Homo sapiens: one gene and its partners. The protein of the gene in region 2 purifies or fractionates together with the protein of the main gene of each other region. This does not show direct contact. Each region holds a gene or a part of one and is shown on either strand. Other genes may lie near its edges. The genes, in order: IFRD2, E2F8 and OR1M1.

Region 1 (4,139 bases), on a different chromosome or scaffold from region 2:
AGGTGATCATTGCCCCTTTGAGCCTGCCATGTAGCACATGCTGGGGTCCCAGGGTGGGGGACGGCCATGTCAAGATTATAGAGCAGGCATATTGACACATATCTTCCCTTCTCCTCAGGAGGAGTGCTGGCATCTCCATGACTACCTGGTGGACACCTTGGGCCCCTATGTGATCAATGTGACCAGGGCAGCGATGGCCTGCAGTCACCAGCGGTGCCATGGCCACGGGCGCTGTGCCCGGCGAGATCCAGGACAGATGGAAGCCTTTCTACACCTGTGGCCAGACGGCAGCCTTGGAGATTGGAAGTCCTTCAGCTGCCACTGTTACTGGGGCTGGGCTGGCCCCACCTGCCAGGAGCCCAGGCCTGGGCCTAAAGAAGCAGTATAAAGCCAGGGCCCCTGCCACTGCCTCTTCTTTTCCCTGCTGCCACTTTTCCAGTCCTGGAACTACTCTGTCCCACTCTTGCTCTATTCAGTTTACAGTCAACCCTCCCAAGCACACACCCCGCTTCCCTTGGAATCCCTGAGGGGTAGAAGGGGCCAGAAAAAACGCTTATAAAACCAGAGGCCCTCTGAGATCATGTGAGTCCTCCATGGCAAGGAAGCAGTTCCAGGGAGAGTCAGGTTCCAGCTAGTTAGGGCTGCCAGCCTAGGGCTTTGTGCCTACACCTCACTAAGCCCATGGAGAGGTCACAGATGGGCCGTGCACGGGCAGATGGGCCCCAAAAAATCTTGGCGAAGGTCGGTAAAGTGCTAAGCTGTTGTCTGCACTCTTTCATCATAAAGTCACTTTTTTCCACTGCCTGAGGTTTGGCTGTTGCTCCTGTTATCCCAAGCTCTAAGCCCTTCCCATGGTCCCCAGACCCAGGCAGGGGTAGGTCTCGTCTGGAGTGTCCCGCTGCCAAGTGCCCTGAGAAGCCAGTCCTGCCTTGGTGCTCCACTGAGGGACGCTTCGGAGTTAACCACCGTGCACTTGTTCCCGACGCGGGGCTGGGGCGCGCGCAGGGCATTGTGGGTGCATAGTTCAGCCAGCGCGTCGTCGGCTGGTGGGCCCCAGGCGTGGACTACCATTCCCATGGTGCTCTACGCGCAGCTAGCCGCCGTCGCCTGCGCGCTCAGGCCTCTGGGATTAGTAGTTTTAGCCTCGTGGATGTGGGCCTGAATCGGATGGCCTGGAACTCGCCTTCCCGGCGACCTGTTTGGCAGGGCGGGGCGCCTCGCGAAGATGGTGGCGCGCGTGGCGTGTGGCTCCCGTCGTCTGGCCAAGTCTCAGCGCAGCGCACCGGCCGGCGTCTCGTTGGCCTGGAGCCCACACCCACCGGGTCCCTGACCCCGCGCCCCCCGCGCCCGGTTCCCGGCATGCCTCGCGCCCGTAAGGGCAACACGCTCCGGAAGGGTGGTCAGCGCCGTGGAGGAGGTGAGTGGGGTGGGGGGCGCGGGACAGCTGTATGAGCGGCGGGCGGGGGTCCTGCTGGATCCCCTTGGTTGTTCTCGAGGGCCCTGGGTGGGGAACCCCCTCGGCCAGCCCCACGCAGCTTCCCATAACTCTACCGAGGCTGGCACGTGCCCCAGCAGTCATTGGCCACGTGCGTGCCCAACTTGAGCTCGCTGCCCACTGCCTGTTGGGAGTCCGCGCTCCCAGCGGTGACCCGGCCAGCCCCTCCGGGCCTCAGTTGCCTGCTGGGTGGACAAACTCACCGGACAGGGCAGGAAGCCAGTCCTCTTGCCAAACCCTGATCCTTTCCTGGACTGGTCAAGGAAGTTGGCGGGAGTCCTGGCCTGCTCCGGTGAAGAGAGGGAGGGGGCTCTGTTGGGAAGCTACCTGGTTAGGGCCTTGGCAGCTTGGCAGGCCTGACTCCACAAGGTAGCTGAGTATCCTGGAGCCTGAGGCAGTCTTGGGACTCGCTTATCAGCTTAGACCAGGAGCCTATCTTAATGCGTTAAACACATATGTTTACTCTGCTGGGATGGGGTGCCTACCACGCACAAATTTATTTATTTTTATTCTTGAGGGGGAAGGGAGGAGGGCCGGGCACAGGAAGGAGGAAAATACCTAGGCACAACTTTAAACTGGTCACCACCATGGTGGGTTTTGGGTGGGGGACATCTAATAGGGTGTGGAACATGTTCACTGAGTGGTGTCAGCCCCAGACTTAGGACTCAGGGAGGCCTGGGGGGAAGTGCTTCTGGGTGAGTCCTGAGAGGATGGAGAAGAGAGCAAGTTGTACAAAGACCTGGCAGCTGGAGGGACCCCAGCGCAGTGGAGTGAATGAGGGAAGGCTGGGCTGCTCCGGCAGGTAGAATAGTAAGATAAAATGGGAGCAGGCTGGGCGTGGTGGCTCACACCTGTAATCCCAGCACTTTGGGAGGCCAAGGCAGGCAGATCACCTGAGGCCAGGAGTTCGAGACCAGCCTGACCAACATGGAGAAACCCTATCTACTAAAAATACAAAATTAGCTGGGTGTGGTGTCGTATGCCTGTAATCCCAGCTACTCGGGAGGCTGAGGCAGGAGAATCACTGGAACCCGGGAGGCAGAGGTCGCAGTGAGCCGAGATGGCGTCATTGCACTCCAGCCTGGGCAACAAGAGCAAAACTCTGTCTCAAAAAAAAAAAAAAAAAAAAAAGGTGGCGGGGAGCAGAGGCCAGTGCGCAGGCTGGACTTTGTCCTGCAGATGAGGGGTGTGAGTAGTTCTTAGAAGTAGGGCCAGCCTGGTGATCACACCCTGTCCAAAACTCTGCCACAGCAGCCAACCTTGCCAATGTCAGCCCTTGGCCCTGGACAGACCCCACACACAGGAGTGCACCAGCCCTACTGAACTGACCCTTGGCTTTGGTTTTTCATCTCTGAGAGGGACACCATTCTATCTTTTGGGATTATGAGGTCGAGTGAGGTACCCCCAGCCATCCCTCATCAGTAGAGGCAAGTTGAGTGTCCTATTCCACCTTCTCCAGGTGCCCGGAGCAGTGCCCAAGCTGACTCGGGTTCCAGTGACGATGAGGCAGCCAGTGAGGCCCGCAGCACCGCCAGTGAATGCCCCAGCCTTCTCAGCACCACTGCAGAGGACAGCCTTGGTGAGAGCGGGTGGAAGTTTGACAGGGGCTTGGTGAGGGCTCCATGGGCTGAGGACAAGAAGCGGTGCTGACCAGGTGGCCTTGCAGGGGGGGATGTCGTGGATGAGCAGGGCCAGCAGGAAGACCTTGAGGAAAAGCTGAAGGAGTATGTGGACTGTCTCACAGACAAGAGGTACCCCTGGCTGCCAGCCAACTCCTACACCCAGCTCCAAGTGTGATCAAGGGAGGGCTGGCCCATATGACCCCCCTTCTCGACCTCCCCCAGTGCCAAGACCCGGCAGGGTGCTCTTGAGAGCCTGCGCCTGGCCCTAGCGTCCCGCCTACTCCCCGACTTCTTGCTGGAGCGCCGCCTCACGCTAGCCGATGCCCTGGAAAAGTGCCTCAAGAAAGGTTGGACCTGGGGGTGTGTGGGAGACTTAAACTGGGCAGACACTGGCCCTTGCTGCATGGGCTGACTGGAAAGCATCCCACAGGGAAGGGCGAGGAACAAGCCCTGGCTGCTGCTGTGCTAGGCCTGCTCTGCGTGCAGCTGGGCCCTGGACCTAAGGGTGAGGAGCTGTTTCACAGCCTGCAGCCTCTGCTGGTCTCTGTGCTCAGTGACAGCACAGCTAGCCCTGCTGCCCGGCTCCACGTGAGTGTGCCTGTGCCCCATGAAACCCTTCCTGCACCTTATCCCTCAGCAGAGTGGTGGGTTCCCCCTATCTTCAGCCTCCTTTACTCTGAGGGGAGTGAGCTCCAGGGCTGGGAACCCAGGTTCACCCGCTGACCGTGGCATTGCATTGCCCTTCTCCCAACAGTGTGCTTCTGCCCTTGGCCTGGGCTGCTACGTGGCTGCCGCTGACATCCAGGTGAGGGGTCTTTGGGCACAGGTGGTAGAGCATCTAGGGCTGTAACTCTGCCTCTGAGCTCCCCTGCCTCTCTGTGCTCCTAGGACCTGGTCTCTTGCCTTGCCTGCTTAGAAAGTGTTTTCAGCCGGTTCTATGGCTTGGGGGGCAGCTCCACAAGTCCTGTGGTTCCTGCCAGCCTGCACGGCCTGCTCTCTGCTGCCCTGCAGGCCTGGGCATT
Region 2 (3,645 bases):
AAGGCTTTCTCTGTAAAGCCCTTAGAACAGTGACAGGCACATGGTCGGTGCTCTGTAACTTGCCACTTTTATTCCTAAAATTGTTTTATTTCATATCCCAAAAGCCAACTGAGCCATCCAGGTTTTAATACACAGACGTTTTCTGTTTCAGGCTCCAGCCCAGTCATTCATTTTACTCCCTCTGATTTGGAGGTGAGACGGTCTTCAAAAGAGAACTGTGCCAAAAACCTCTTTTCCACACGTGGGAAACCAAACTTTACTCGACACCCATCTCTTATCAAATTGGTAAAGAGTATAGAAAGTGATCGGAGAAAGATAAATTCTGCGCCCAGTAGCCCTATCAAGACCAACAAAGGTATGTTTTCAGGAATGTCAGGGATCTGCTAGGAAGAATTCCCTTTTATCTCATTTTTTCAGCTTACTTGATCCTTGCAATAGTTGTCAGAGAATTATTTCAATATCTATATACCCAAACCCTCTTGAAGCCTAACTAATGTATAAATTTAAAAAGTCATTTGTGGGGTTTATTGTTTAATCGCTATGCAACTTTGAGGGGAGGTGCACACTTTCTGTTCCTCTGACTTCAGTGAGGTTTCATCTGTGTGAACATTTGTTCTTTAGCTTTGACCGGTGCTCTCTTCCTTTCTATTTTACCAGCTGAGAGTTCTCAGAATTCTGCACCCTTCCCAAGTAAAATGGCTCAGCTCGCAGCTATTTGTAAAATGCAGTTAGAAGAGCAATCAAGGTAGGTTGGCAATCCTCTTTAATAACAGGATGAATTACTTTTACATTACATTGTTAGGATTACTTATTTTATGTGAGAAGAAGCCCTAGCCTTGAACTGGAGAGCTAATCTTTTCTGTATCTCATACTCACTCATTACAGAAATTATCTGCATGTTCCATAAAAGCGTGGCTTCAATATGAGGCTTAAAGCGGTAGAACAGTTCAGAAAAAATGTATATCCATCATGTCGTGTATTAAATCTTGTCTTTCAGTGAATCCAGACAGAAAGTGAAAGTACAGCTGGCAAGATCTGGACCCTGCAAACCAGTAGCCCCTCTGGACCCCCCAGTGAATGCTGAGATGGAGCTGACAGCACCGTCCCTCATCCAGCCCCTGGGAATGGTTCCCCTGATCCCCAGCCCCTTGTCATCAGCAGTGCCCCTGATCCTACCTCAGGCCCCTTCAGGCCCATCCTATGCCATCTACCTGCAGCCCACTCAAGCCCACCAAAGTGTGACGCCACCCCAAGGCCTGAGCCCAACGGTGTGCACCACCCACTCTTCTAAAGCTACTGGCTCAAAAGACTCCACAGATGCCACCACTGAGAAGGCAGCCAATGATACCTCAAAGGCCAGTGCCTCTACCAGGCCTGGAAGCTTGCTGCCAGCACCAGAGAGGCAAGGGGCAAAGAGCCGAACCAGGGAGCCAGCTGGAGAAAGAGGCTCAAAGAGGGCAAGCATGCTCGAGGACAGTGGTTCCAAAAAGAAATTTAAAGAGGACCTAAAAGGACTTGAAAATGTCTCCGCAGTAAGTACAGCCTTGAACTGCACAAAGCTTTAGGAATTCCCTAGTCTATTACAGGAAGATTGGTGGCTTGTGAAATTTACCGAAGAGCATTCTCTCAGAAGACAAGGAACTGTTCCTTAGCATCCCATAATCCAAGTGAGGCCCTCAACAGCTAATCCCCTGGCTGGGATGAAGGCAGGGACATTTTTAACCTTTGGAGGAAGGGATTATTTGCTGTCTTTTTAAAGTACCATGGGTGGTTGTCCTTAAGTCCATTTCTCCATCACACACTGGAATGCAAACAGCTGTCATGAAAGTCTTAAATAATTTACAAGCAGACGTAACCCCAAATGAACGTGTGGATGCATAGGGTTCCTGTAACTCCTGCTTTCTGAGTCATTACCTAATGTTTGTTTGTTGTCATGTAACTGGCATCTGTTGCCTAGAAGATAAATTGCTCCCCGTTTTTACTTTCTACCTAAAATTTAAATCAAAATTTCTATTTCATGTAAATAGAAAAATCAAACTGATCTTGGCAAATTGTAGATATAGTTCATGTATTGGTTTCTAGAGATTTTGACATGCTAGACAAATTTTTTTCCTAAGTGGAGATTAGTTCCGGAGGGAATTAATATTTATTGGATGCCTACCCACATATAGCAGACATAATAGATATTAGTCACTTTTACATACAGTATCTCATTTTCCTCCCTTAGGACAATTATATATGAGAGACATTACTGTATCATCCGATAAATACCACTAAATGTGCAAGTAAAAGTTAATCTCTCATTTTGCCCCTGCTCTTAATACAAGCTATTTTACTTCTCTCTGTCTTATTTTTCCGCATCGGTAAAGAATTTATTCCACCAGTTTTTCCTCATCACCTACTGGATATAAAGCACTGTGCTCTGGATCAAATCTAACCCAGCACCTGCCTTTGGTGGCAATTGCTTTTGGGTACTTGCCTGTGGGCATATGATAGTTTTTGTGGGGTTAAGTGAATTTATTCCATGATGATACACATAAAAGGGTTTGATCCTTTTAAGACGTGTTATAAGCTGAAAGGTATTATCTGTTACGTTGTTATTAAAGAGGAAGCTTAGAGTTTGTCAAATCTTCCCTGAGGATGGCCTCATGGTAACCATTCAAAACATCTATTATCTTACATAGTATCCTTTTGTATTTAATGTATATGCCAAGTGGGAAATCATAAGGTTTCAATATTCTGGAAGGTCCATAACTTCTTTTGGCCAATGGGTATGATTTAATAATGGTCTCCTGTTGCTTACATAGTTATTCAGGATTAGGATTTTCAGTGGATAGATTTTCCATATACTCCTGCTTCTTTTTTATATCTCTGCAACTCTAACCATTTCTTTTTTCTTTTGAGACAGGGTCTTACTCTGTCACCCAGAATGGAGTGCAGTGGCATGATTTTAGCTCACTGCAGCCTCGACCTCCAAGGCTTAAGTGATCCTCCCACCTCAGTCTCCCAAGTAACTTAGACTACAGGTGTGCTGCCATGCCCGGCTAATTTTTTATTTTTTGTGGAGACGGGGTTTCACCATGTTGCTCAGCCTGGTCTCGAACTCCTGAGCTCAAGCAGTCTGCCTGCCTTGGCTTCCCAAAGTGCTGAGATCACAGGCATTTGCCGTCATGCCCAGCCCACTTTAACCATTTCGTTTTAGTATGGCCTGAGCAAAACAAAGACAATGAGAGAGTCATGTGTTAATTCATTCAACAAATTTTTACTGAGAATTTATACTTCTAGGGGTGGAAAGAAGATAAGTATGCAAGTAAACACAAACATATCAGGTAGTGAATGATAGGAATGAAGATGACATGATAGGAGGAAGGGGTGGAAGGGCTACTGTAGGCTAGAAGAGTTCAAGTTCAAATATGTCAGATTCATTCGGCAATTTAATAGTTCTAATTATTTTATAAAAAAGGGAATTGGCATAGGTTAAAAGATTCTATAATGAATATAGTTTGTTGGAAATTTAAAAATTATTATTCTATTATTGTGGGTTTTACTGAAGACTTGAAAGAGTTAAACCAGCAGTCAGAATAATTTGTACCATGAGAGAATATAACTAAAGCTAATAGAGCGCAGGTCTTCATAAAGCACCTA
Region 3 (4,276 bases), on a different chromosome or scaffold from region 2:
ATAATAATAATGGTATTGTGGTTATGCTTTCAAAAAGAGCTTTTTGTTTTTTGAAGACATACCAAAATCATTATACATATGGAATTTGCTCTGAAATTATCTCTGGGAAGAGAGAGGTCAAAGTAGGTAGGACACAGATTCAACAGAGGCTTGACTTGGTAGGTGTGGAAGCTGAGTGATTGGGCACACAGGATTTCATTATATGAAGCTGAGGCATACCAAAAAAAAAAATGCCAGTTTTGTTGATCAAAAATGGTAGAATATTGACAATTGCATATGGCTCAACCTAGTATTTTGCTCTTTACATAGCTAAAGGCTTTGAAAAACTGAGCCTTCATGTATCCATCAGTTTCATGAGTGTTTACTGAGTAGACACAACCCAATAATCTGGGCATGACCTTATAAAACCAAATTCCTGAAAATTCCCAGTAATGCCACCATGGTCCCAATACTCAGTGAGAATCTGGCTGCAGACTTAGTCAGCCAACCACTCTCTCCATGTACATCCATTAGGGTAGGCTCTAGTTTCTCCTTTTGCAGAACTGAATGAAAGCCATGATCCCTTTATAGAGAGTTGTTCTGTTGAGGTTGAGTGATGAAAGCAGGCAGCCCTGGGTCTTGGTGACAGATCACTGGGTGGACGTGGGAAAATGTTTGGAGTGTTTCTTAGTTCTTTTCTTTTTTTTTTTTTTTTTTTTTTTGAGATGGAGTTTCGCTCTTGTTGCCCAGGCTGGAGTACAATGGTGCAATCTCGGCTCACCACAACCTCTGCCTCCTGGGTTCAAGCGATTCTTCTGCCTCAGCCTCCTGAGTAGCTGGGACTACAGGTGTGCACCACCATGCCAACTAATTTTTGTATTTTTAGTAGAGACAGTGTTTCACCATGTTGGCCAGGATTGTCTCAATCTCTTGACCTCATGATCCACCCGCCTCAGCCTCCCAAAGTGCTGGGATTACAGGCGTGAGCCATCACACCCGGCCATTTCTTAATTCTTTAAGTGATGAGGAACATTGGCTTCCAATAAGAATGGAACCTTCTGATATAAGAAGCCCTGGGCATTGGAAAGACTGAGTTTAGAAGACAGGGAGAGTTTGTTCCTGGAAGAGAGGGTGCAGAGAAAGTTAGGAATCATGCAACTTACCCCTAAGTTGCCTCATGAAGACATAAAATGCTTCTTACTGCCACGTCCCAGCCCCCATAGGAAACAGAACTATTCAGGGACTAGAGATGAAATTGGACAATTTGTGTAACAAGGAGCTTGGGGAATTGACTTCTTATTGGCCCAGAAATTGTAAATATTCCCTCGGTTCCTACAACTTATCCCCCACCCTAGCTTTTCTTCTTTGGACCAGGAGGACAACTTCCCAGTATTTCTATGTAGCATCTGCTGGCCCAAACATCTAACTTCATCATCTAGTACCTGCTGGGAGGACACTGAGCCAGTTTAACTCATGCCTGGGTGATGGTGTCAAGAAGAGGAAAGATAGCCCAGTGAGTGAGCTGAGAGAGAGAGAGAGAGAGAGAGACTGAACGAATGTTGGTAAAATTAATGAAGCCAAGCTCAATGATCTCAGATACACTGGAAGATTCTTTTTTATTATTTATTGATTTACTGATTTATTTATTTTAGAGACAGAACCTTGCTCTGTTATTCAGGCTGGAGTGCAGTGGCACAATCACAGCTCACTGCAGCTTCTACCTCCTGGGCTTAAGCAATCCTCCTGCCTCAGCCTCTAGAGTAGCTGGAACTACAGGCATGTGCCACCACACCCAGCTGATTTTTTGAACATTTTTCCCCCACCGAGATGGAGTTTTGCTCTTGTTGCCCAGGCTGGAGTGCAATGGCACGATCTTGGCTCACTGCAACCTCTGACTCCCAGGTTCGAGCAATTCTCCTACCTCAGCCTCCCGAGTAGCTGGGATTACAGGCATACACCACCATGCCTTGTGAATTTTGTATTTTTAGTAGAGACAAGGTTTCACCATGTTGGTCAGGCTGATCTCGAACACCTGACCTCAGGTGATCACCCGCCTCAGCCTCCGAAAGTACTGGAATTCACTGTGCTCGGCCGACACTGGAAGATTCTGTCTGGTCAATCAGCACCCACTTGTCAGCCCAGAATCCAATGGCTCTTCTTACCAAACTAGCTCAGCCTGGTTTAGTTGTGATGCTACCAGTCCTTTACCTAAAAACCATGATTATTTGTAGCACTGTTTTTCTTCGTAACTAGACTTTTTTTTTGAAATGGAGTCTTACTCTGTCACCCAGGCTGCAGTGCAGTGGCATGATCTTGGCTCACTGCAACCTCCATCTCTCAGGTTCAAGAGATTCTCCTGCCTCAGCCTCCCAAGTAGCTGGAATTACAGATGCCCGCCACCACACCCAGCTAATTTTTGTATTTTTAGTGGAGCTGGGGTTTCACCATAATGGCCACGCTGGTCTCCAACTCTTGACCTCAGGTGATCCACCCGCCTCAGCCTCCCAAAGTTCTGGTATTACAAGCATGAGCCACTGCGCCCAGCCTGGACTTTCTTTTCCAAGCCCACTTGAGTGCCTGAAGGAACAGATGGCTTCCTCCTCAGTACTTCTGTAGGCAGAAGTTTGTGTTATTCCCCATGTTGGGTCTTGGAAGCCCTTGGAGATTCCCAAGTATTCCAGGCTGAGAGATCTTAGACACAGAGTGCAGAGGTCCAGATAGGATAGGACTGGTGCTTCCTTGGAGAGAGGCTCATCAAGAAGCTTAAGGGATGAATCTTCGGGTTCCTGATACTTAAATTTTTCCCAAGAGCTGTGGAAGAATGAGGAGTGACAGAGTAATTCAGTGAAAGCTTAGGTGTCAGGGCAGGAGGATGTCTGAGATCAGTTCCTTGATTCCATTAGTAGTTTAATCACAGAGCATTCACTGGCTTCCTTGAGATGGAAAAATACTCTGACTCGGCCAGGCACGGTGGCTCACACCTGTAATCCCAGCACTTTGGAAGGCCGAGGCGGGCGGATCACCTGTGGTCAGGAGTTCAAGACCAGCCTGGCCAGCATGGTGAAACCCCATCTCTAGTAAACATACAAAAAAATTAGCCAGGTGTGGTGGTGGGTGCCTGTAATCCCAGCTACTCGGGAGGCTGAGGCCAGAGAACCATTTATATCCGGGAGGCAGAGGTTGCAGTGAGCTGAGATTGCACCATTGCACTCCTGCCTGAGCAACAAGAGCGAAACTCTGTCTCAAAAAAAAAAAAAATACTCTGACTCCTTTTAAAATGTTTTAATTGTATATATTTATGAGGTACATAGTAATGTTTCCATATATGTAATGTATAGTGATCAGATCTGGGTAATTAGCACATCTATTATCACAAACATTTATCATTTCTCTGTGTTGGGAACACTCAATATCCTCCTTCTAGCTGTTTAGCTATATAGCATATTATTGTTAACTGTATTCATCCTACAGGGATATAGAACACTAGAACTTATTCTTCCAATTTGCCTGTAGTTCTGTATGCTGTAACAAATCTCTTCCTATCTGCCCCCTCCCTCTACCCTTCCCAGACTCTAGTATCCTCTGTTCTTTTTACTTCTATGAAATCATTTTTTTTCTTTTAGCTTTCACATGTGAGTGAGAACATGCAGTGTTTAACTTTCTGTTCCTGGCTTATTTCATTTATAATATGCTCCAATTCTTTCCATGTTGCTGTAAATGACAAGATCTCCTTCATTTTTATGGCTGAATAGTTTTCCATTGTGTATTTCTACCACATTTTTTTTTTTTTTTTTTTGAGACAGAGTTTCGCTCTTGTCACCCCGGCTGGAGTGCAATGGCACAATCTCAGCTCACTGCAACCTCCGCCTCCTGGGTTCAAGCGATTCTCCTGCCTCAGCCTCCCAAGTAGCCAGGATTACAGGGGCCCACCACTACGCCCGGATAATTTTTTGTATTTTTAGTAGAGACGGGGTTTCACCATGTCGGCCAGGCTGGTCTCGAACTCCTGACCTCAGGCAATCCGCCTGTCTCAGCCTCCCAAAGTGCTGGGATTACAGGTGTGAGCCACTGTGCCCTGCCTAAAGCCAACACATTTTCCAAAAATCCCTGGCTGCCTCAACAGTTTTCGGAGTGCTCTTACAATCCTCAGGGGTGCTGTGTGTGGGGTGTGATTCTCTATTAATCCAAGCTCCTCATAATCTGATAAATGCTGCCTGGAGTTCATCTCCCTCACTAAACTGTGAATTCATGAATCCATGCGTGCTTCATGAATTACAGAGATTAAGAGTACATGCTC

What was found.
Region 1: the proteins of E2F8 (region 2) and IFRD2 purify together in Homo sapiens (affinity purification with mass spectrometry; one large-scale study listed by BioGRID and IntAct). This does not show direct contact.
Region 3: the proteins of E2F8 (region 2) and OR1M1 purify together in Homo sapiens (affinity purification with mass spectrometry; one large-scale study listed by BioGRID and IntAct). This does not show direct contact.

What each region holds. Positions count from the first base shown.
Region 1 is NC_000003.12:50,289,495-50,293,633, reverse strand, and holds the start of IFRD2 (interferon-related developmental regulator 2), read left to right. Parts: upstream 1-1,204; 5' UTR 1,205-1,359; coding exon 1,360-1,417; intron 1,418-2,954; coding exon 2,955-3,074; intron 3,075-3,161; coding exon 3,162-3,246; intron 3,247-3,339; coding exon 3,340-3,464; intron 3,465-3,547; coding exon 3,548-3,705; intron 3,706-3,871; coding exon 3,872-3,922; intron 3,923-4,005; coding exon 4,006-4,139. Other genes in the region: HYAL3 (hyaluronidase-3 isoform 1 precursor), read left to right, coding at 1-2, 119-388. UniProt on the Homo sapiens protein: Ribosome-binding protein that acts as an inhibitor of mRNA translation by promoting ribosome inactivation. Associates with the P- and E-sites of the ribosome and inserts a C-terminal helix into the mRNA exit channel to preclude translation.
Region 2 is NC_000011.10:19,227,341-19,230,985, reverse strand, and holds part of E2F8 (transcription factor E2F8), read left to right. Parts: intron 1-151; coding exon 152-355; intron 356-657; coding exon 658-745; intron 746-997; coding exon 998-1,532; intron 1,533-3,645. UniProt on the Homo sapiens protein: Atypical E2F transcription factor that participates in various processes such as angiogenesis and polyploidization of specialized cells.
Region 3 is NC_000019.10:9,085,666-9,089,941, forward strand, and holds the start of OR1M1 (olfactory receptor 1M1), read left to right. Parts: upstream 1-1,395; 5' UTR 1,396-1,492; intron 1,493-4,276. UniProt on the Homo sapiens protein: Odorant receptor.